Linked DNA regions of Homo sapiens. The protein of the gene in region 2 purifies or fractionates together with the protein of the main gene of each other region. This does not show direct contact. Each region holds a gene or a part of one and is shown on either strand. Other genes may lie near its edges. The genes, in order: GPR150 and C10orf90.

Region 1 (4,082 bases), on a different chromosome or scaffold from region 2:
TATTTGTTCTATCTCTAACTCACATGATGAATTGTTCAACAAATATATATTGAGAGCCTACTACATGTCAAGCATTGTTTAAGCATTTGGAATATATTAGTGAACAAAACAGCCCTCAGCATTGGCTCTACAAAGAGCTTTAAACAATCATTTCCCCTTTCTGCATCTTAGGTCTGCATTTGTGCATGAACAAGAAACACTATAATGGAAAGCTTTAGATCCTCATACAAAAATCACTGATAAACCCATGGATATATTGTTCATAAGTGCTGCCACTTCTGTCTAGAACCAAGAACAGTTGAGAGGAAGAGGTTACTGATCAAATCCGCTCTTGACCTTGTTCTCAGCTATCCACACCAACAGGCATTGAATTCATTTTTTTAACAAGGGAGTTTTATATACACATGCAGCATTCTGAGGTTTTGACTTCCTTCCTAGCTGCAAATCTCTTTGAGGCTCCATCTGGGACACTGAGCCCCACCCATATGCACCACCTTGAAGCTTCCTTTCTCTGGTTTGCTGGGGACTTTGTACGGAGAGGCTCCATCTGGGCATAGCATTACACCTTTAGAGGCTGCTGGGGGCACAGGGACGATTTCCAACAGAAACCAAGTATATTTGAAAGACACCAAGTCAAGCTTTTGTTTCCTTCCTACAACCTCAGCTTCTGTTGAAGTGGAAACTAGACTGGAAATAAAGGCCACGCTGATTTTCTTCTGAGAAAATACATTACTATGTTAAAAAAAAAAAAGTCCCAATTGCTCCGTGGGAAAGGTTTTTATTTTATAAATACTCTGTGGCTCTGAAATGACAGCATGATTACATTTCTGACAGCACTGGTATAATTCTCAGACTCCCCAGGGAGAGCAACGTGGGGATTTTCCTCCTGGAAAGAAAAGGCAAACTTGCAGGTGCTGAAGGTACATTTGATTTAAGCACGATTCAAAATAAGTAAATACAGATGATAACACAGCAAATACTGAAAGTTGGGTAATCAGCAAAAATAAATGGCATTATCCAGAGCACTATAAATGCGTGAAAGAAAACTGCAAAAATAACTGTTTTTGTTTTTACAACTTTCCAGTGGCTCACTGTCTCCAAATGGGGAGATATGAGAGGAACTGTAGGGAAGAAGAGAAACTGGAAGAGCATAGGGAAATGTAAACATGAGAAGGGAATAGGAGAGTGGAGGAAGGGGACAACTTCAGTGTCACTCTCTCACAGACTCTCCTGCCCCTTGTGATCTGGACAGACCCTGGCAGGCCTCGAGTTCCCTGGAGGTTGCGCCTTAGCGACAGATGACCCGTCTCTGACCACCAAGCACCTAGAAGGCACTTTCGCAGGAGCAAGGCAGGGGTCTGGGGCGCGGAGGGGGTGGGCGCAAGCCGCCCTCGTCCAGCGGTTCCCGCCGAGCATGGTGATAATGAGGGTGGGGCCAGCGTTGGCGGTAGAGCGCCTGGTGGCCCCGGGGCCCCTCCTCGTCCTCCGCGCCTCCCTGCGGCGCGCAGCACAGAGAGCCCAGCCGCTTCCGCAGCTGTCGCCGGAGCCGGCAGTCGCCCGCCTGGAAGAAGAGGTAGACGAAGGGATTGAGAGCGCTGTTGGCCATCGCCACCACGCGCAGCGCCGCCGACAGGCCCTCTCCCTCCCAGTCTCCCGCGGGCCCGGACGACCACGCGGCCGCCAGCCGGGCGGCAAAGTAGGGCAGCTCGCAGCCCACGAACAGCAGCGCCAGCAGCAGGCTCATCTTCAGGCTCTGCACCTTGGCGCGGGGCAGCGCGCTGGGCGCAGGGGCTCGACCTGGGCTCGCCGACCAGGGCGCTGCAGCCGCGGGGGCCTGCGGCCGGTGCCGCCACCAGACGGAGAGTAGGTGGCCGCAAGCGACGCCCAGGACCGTAACAGGCGCGACGAAGCCCGCGACGGCCTCGTAGAACGCGTAGACCTGCAGGTGCCAGCGCGGCAGGGGCGCGAAGATCCCGTGGCAGCGACGCTCCCCCGGCCAGGCGCGGGCGGCCGGGGGCGCGCCTGGCTGCAGGGACGTTGGCGGCGGCGGCGGCGGCAGCGGCGAGGGGGAGTCCCCGCGCACCACGAAGGCCGGGGGCAGCGCCAGCAGCAGTGCCAGCAGCCAGCCCAGGGCGGCGAGGGCACGCGCGGGCAGCGGCCGGCCGTGCGGAAGACGCACCGCGCGCCGGCGCTCGAGGGCGATGAGCACCACGAGGTGGGCCGAGGCGCCCCGCCCGGATGCCTGCAGCAGCTGCAGGAAGCGGCACGCCAGGTCCCCCGTGGCCGCGCGGGGCTCGCCCAGCAGTTCCCAGGCCAGCTGTGACAGCGCCGTGCCCCCGCACGCGTACAGGTCCGCCAGGGCCAGCTGCACCAGCAGGAAGTCCATCTTGCGACGCTTGGGGCCCGCCCAGGGCCCGCCGCCGCCGCACAGGCGGCACAGCACTGTGGTGTTGCCTGCCACCGCCACCACCAGGATGACCCCCAGGAACACCAGGCGGACGCGGCGGCTGGGCGGCCCAGAGGCAGGGGCTCCTTGCCCCAAGGTCAGGTTGAGACCCCAGCCCAGCAAGATGGGCACGGAAATGTTGGGCGCCGGCGGCAGAATTGAGGGGCTAAAGAGATCCTCCATCCTTGTCCCGGAGGAAGAGGAGGCACCGAAGAGGGCGGGCAGGACGCGGGAAACCAAAGTGGAGGCGAGGCGGCGCGGGGAGCGACGCTGGGTCTATACGAGTTCCCAAAGTTAGTTGAAAAGGCACACGCACAGAGAGGGAGATGGATTCGGGCGGCTTTGCGCTTAGTTGTTTTTGTCGATTGTCCTCGTGATTTGTCACTCAAATGTGGGTTGTACACTCGAGGAACACACATGATTCCTATTCTCCACCTTCCCCGCGTCTTCCCTCCCATTCCCGGCGGGTACTCTTCCAATCTCTGCAGCGGCCCCCGACGCTACCCTCGCGGAAGCCGCGGACCCCTGGGCGCTGAGAACCTCATCCATTCTCTATTTACGTGTAAAGCACAGCAGGACAGAATGTCGCTTTGCTTGGCCATTGTATACGGCCAGTGTTATGCCAGCACCCACACAAGAGAGGACCTCTTGACTGAGATTGTACCACACGCCCCCACCACCCCAATGTGATTGCCAGTAGGAAAAAAATAGAAAAGACATTAGTTTTTATTTTAAAGGTTTGAAATGCCATGGATCTGCACGAGCATGAGAAAAACAGGAACACAAGAAACCTAACAGCGTTTTGAGCAAAGAGGAGACCTATTAGCTGAATTTTGATCAAGATGTGTCTTCTCTGTCCAAGAATGAAAGTATTTTAATTAGAGGGTACTAAAGTCAATGATGTTGCTTTTAGGAGTGGCAGTGTTGCAGATCGTTCCAAATACTAGGAGCAGTGGGTCACAGCTGCTTTCTTGGTGATGTAAAATTCATTTCATTAGTCTGAAGAGGGCATTAATAGGTTTTATGCAAATGGTAGTGCATTTATTGCTTTTCTCCTAATATTTTCATCCAGTGAAGGATGCGTCATCACACTCCTCATTCTCTTGATTCTGTTTTCCAGCAGATGGGAAGTTGCTAGGAGGGGCTACGCCTCCAATAAGCCTAGAGAAAAGGTGACTAAGAAAGTGATAAGGCGGCCAATTTTTTTAAAAAAGAAATCCAAGTCACAGGAAATGGTTTAGATTAAATGTTGCTGCTTTCATTTTAGCCTTGTCTCCTCACAAACACATTTTAGTTTCCCTGTTGGAAGCATCCATTTGTCTTTTTATGCACCCTCCACGTTAATCATGGTGAAAGTAGAATTTCCTGTACTTCCTGGCCTGGGGGCCAGGGAGGTATGAGTGTTGTCTAGGGTTCACATTCCCAATCTGAGGAAACATTTGGAACTTTAAGATTCATGGCCTAGGAAGATTTGGTGGGTTCCATGATAGTCCTGCCAGCTGCTGTAGGAATCCCATTTCCCAAGCTGTTGTCCTTTGGCCAGAAACCTTGGTTATTTTCATCATCATCTCTGTGGTGCCTCGCTCTGGTCTGACAGGTTGTAGTTATCAGTGGGTATGTGTTGAGTTGATGAATT
Region 2 (3,814 bases):
GCCAAGAACCAGTGATCTTGGAAGAGGATCCCAAAGCCTCAGAGATCACAGTCTCAGGTGACACCTTGATTCAACCTGAAGACATCCTAATCAGAGAAGCCATCTAACCTACACCAGGACTTCTGATCTACAAATAATCAATGGTGTTGTTTTAAGCTGCTATGTATGTAATAATTTGTTAGGCAGCAATAAAAAACAAATACAGATTGTGTCTGCCAGATTTTTTCCTTTTTCTAATAGCCAATCATAACAGACACAATACATGATCCTGCCTTAAATTGATATCATCTCAGTCATAAGTACAGCAGCTAGCTGCTTCAGTTAATTTGTGCATGGTGATCATTTCCCTTGGACTGGAGAACCCCTACTGTTAACCCTGTGGACCATGATTTTGGAAACACTTAACGTGGCATGGGACAACCTTGAGAATCTGGCTTCTGCTATTGTATGCTTGACACAAATGTCATTAACTTGGAAAACTTTTAGCCATTATTTCTTCAAATCTTTTTTCTTCTCACTCCTCCCCCACATTCTTTCTGTGTATCTAATCATATGTGTGTTGGGCTTCTTGATATCATCCTCCAGGTCACAGGAGCAGCATCCATAAAGTACTAGTTACAATTTGCCTGCACCCAGGGGCCACGTCTTTGTGCCATGGCTCTATGATAGAGTTGGAGATGGCAGGAAAACATATGTTCAAACTTGGACAACAACAACAACTCATTTTCATGGGGTACAGCCTCCATGCCAATTCCAAGGCTCAACCCTTTATATAGGTTATCTCTTTTAATGCCCCCAGCAACGCTATAAGGCAGATATTATCATTGTTCATATGAATACAGATGAGAAAACTAGGCTCAAAGAGAACAAGAAAATTGCCAAGGTCACTCAGCTAGTAAGAACCCAGACAGTCTCGACCCAGTGCTCTTTCTCTTAATCACACCACCACCTGTCATCTGCCATCTCTTCTCTCCCTTGGTTTGGCTGAAATGTGGATATGGTTTCCCCACAAGTTCCCAATTCCCTGATGGAAATTGACCAAAATGATGTCAGATAGATCTTACAGTGCTCTTTCTCTCTTGCTGTCTCTCCCTCTCTGAATCTCACTCTTGCTCTCTCTCTCTTTTTTTTTTTTTCTCTCTTGTCTTCATTTTGGAAAGTTCATTGATCTTTTCTTCTGCAGCATCCAATCTGCTGTTAATCCCACCCAGTAAAATTTCCATTTTAGATAGTGTCATTTTTTTCTTATCAAGAAGTTCTTTTTTAAAAATCATCTATTTCTTGCCCCATTATGGTGATGTCTTTTCTTAAATCCTTGAATTTAAAGGGCAAACAATATAATTATAATATTTGTAATAGCCTTTTAATAGATCATTGCTTGCTAATTCTCTCATTTGCATCATTAATGAATCTGTTTTTACTAACCAGTATTATCTTGGTTATGAGTCATATGCTCTGGATTCTTTGAATGTTTAGTAATTTTGATTGGATGACAGACATTGTAAATTTTATATTATTGCTTGCTGGATTTTGTTGTAGTCTTGTTAAAAAAAAAAAAAGTTGAACTTTGTTTGCCAGCTAAACCACTTGAGGAATGGCTTGATTATTTCAACAACTGGTTTTAAAATTATTATGGGTGGATCTAGGGTAGCCTTTACTGAGGCTAGTTTAGCCGCACTACTAAGACATGACCCTCCTCGGGGCTCTACGTGATTTTCCCTGTATTCAGTGAGGTCTCTACATTCCAGGTGGTAAAGGACCCGAATGATTCATGGCTCTGAGGTAGTGCTGAGAAAGGCTCATCTCACAGCTCCCCAGTAAGATGTTCTTTCCTTGCCAGTTTTCTCTGTCTGGTCATAGAGACTTTCTCCCTACACAGCACAGATTAATTTTCAGCCAGACTTAAGAGGGCCTGAAGCAAACTTCTGGAGCTGTTTTTTTTCCTCTCAAGAAGTGTGCCTTGCAAATAACAGTCACATCCTGTGTCTTCTCAGCTCAGAGAGACTACTGGGTTCTGTTTAGGTTTTCCCTTCCTGTGCCCCCGTTCAGAAATTGCCATTCCTTCTGCCTAAAATGTCCTCCCCTTCCCTATTTGCCTATACTCTCTCTGTCCCCCCACGCCTGGAAACCTCCCACTCTTCCATAAAGAATGTGCCCAGAGGTCTCCTCCATGCATTCTTGCTGAGTTCTCTGGATCCACAATCTGTGTAGACACCCTGGCCTGGCATCATTGGGATGGGTGCCTCCGTGCATTCTTGCTGAGTTCTCTGGATCCACAATCTGTGTAGACACCCTGGCCTGGCATCATTGGGATGGGTGCCTCCGTGCATTCTTGCTGAGTTCTCTGGATCCACAATCTGGGTAGACACCCTGGCCTGGCATCATTGGGATGGGTGCCTCCTTGATCAGATGATAAGCCTCTTTGTCCTCTGTGTCCCCGGCACCTACCACAGTTCCTGGCACACAGTAGGTCCTTAATACATATTTGTTACAAGAGCCAGCCCAGGTGTTTCCTCTTTAATCTGTCTGCTCCACTAGAGGAGGAAGAGGACCTAGAGTGGCAAAAACAGAGGGTGGTAAGAACACATGTGGTCCTCAGAACTGTAAGGAAGTTATCAGTGAGAAAGCTGCGGAGGGACAAATGTCTCAATCAGAAGGAAAGAGAAAGAGCACCCGATTTAGAGGGGCATGATAACTGCTCCTAATCACTTGATCCTGGTGTAGTTGACTTTCTCTGTAGTTAGCTCTGAACCTCCCTGGGTTCTAGCTGTTGTTGTCAGGAGATGTGCTGCCCCCGACCCAGCACCACGTGAGAAGTATAATCTGCAGAAGAAGACGTAACATAGATGGAATCCTCCTTCCGCCGCTCCTAACTGTGTCACTGTGCAGCCTGCACCATCTCTCTGGCCTCACAGAATTTTCTCTTTGGAAAAATAGGCCTCATGTGTCTCACACAGCTGTGGTGAGCTTCAATGAGGCAATTCAGGAAATCAGCTGACACCCGCCTCTTTTGTTCCATCTCCGTCTCTCAGCTCTCCTTGCACGCAGTGGTCCTGGCTTCCACACTGTCCTCTCTGACTCACATCTGCCCCCACCCCCTGCCCTTCTACACACCAGTTTTCTTAACATGGACAATTCAGCTGGCTTTTTTGTGACTTCCTTTGGGGTTCATGCGGTTGGAAAATATTGGTCTAGAACTTGCAGATCATGGGTTCAGAACTGCAAAAAACCACCAAGTACCCTATTTAAAAACATAGATTTCTGGATGCCACCCCTCCCAGAACCCAGGGGTCTGAATTCTCAGAAAGTTCTAAGGATTCTAAAGTACACTAAGGTGTGAGGGCCATGCAATCTTCCATAAGATGGTAAAACCCCATTTAGATCCTTGCCCCTAGGGAGGTCCATTTTATGTCGAAAATGCCTCATTAATGCTTTCTACCTTAGCCCTAGCTTTATCGTGAGGGAATCAGGTGTGGAAGAACTCACACTCTCAAGAGTCTCTTGTCCGTGATGGAATTTGCAGCTGGCCCCAGGAGTAGGCGTGCTCTAAATGAAAACTGTGCATTCAGGTCCTGGCCAATTTGATGACTAATCTCTGAATTGCTTGGGGGATGGAGATTACCCTGAGCCAAGAATATAGAAGGTCATAAGTCTCTGTGACCTGACGCTCTGAGTGTGGGGAAGCAGGGAAAGGAAGTGTTTTGCCCCAATTTAAACAAGACCTGCTTACAAAGCAGCAGCACCCATAAATCACTGGTTACAATTCGCCTGCACCCAGGGGCCACTTCTTGGTGCCGTGGCTCTGTGTCACTTT

The links.
Region 1: the proteins of C10orf90 (region 2) and GPR150 purify together in Homo sapiens (affinity purification with mass spectrometry; one large-scale study listed by BioGRID and IntAct). This does not show direct contact.

Annotation. Positions count from the first base shown.
Region 1 is NC_000005.10:95,618,823-95,622,904, reverse strand, and holds GPR150 (probable G-protein coupled receptor 150), read right to left. Parts: upstream 2,819-4,082; 5' UTR 2,630-2,818; coding exon 1,325-2,629; 3' UTR 763-1,324; downstream 1-762. UniProt on the Homo sapiens protein: Orphan receptor.
Region 2 is NC_000010.11:126,660,548-126,664,361, forward strand, and holds part of C10orf90 ((E2-independent) E3 ubiquitin-conjugating enzyme FATS), read right to left. Parts: intron 1-3,814. UniProt on the Homo sapiens protein: Tumor suppressor that is required to sustain G2/M checkpoint after DNA damage. Acts as a p53/TP53 activator by inhibiting MDM2 binding to p53/TP53 and stimulating non-proteolytic polyubiquitination of p53/TP53.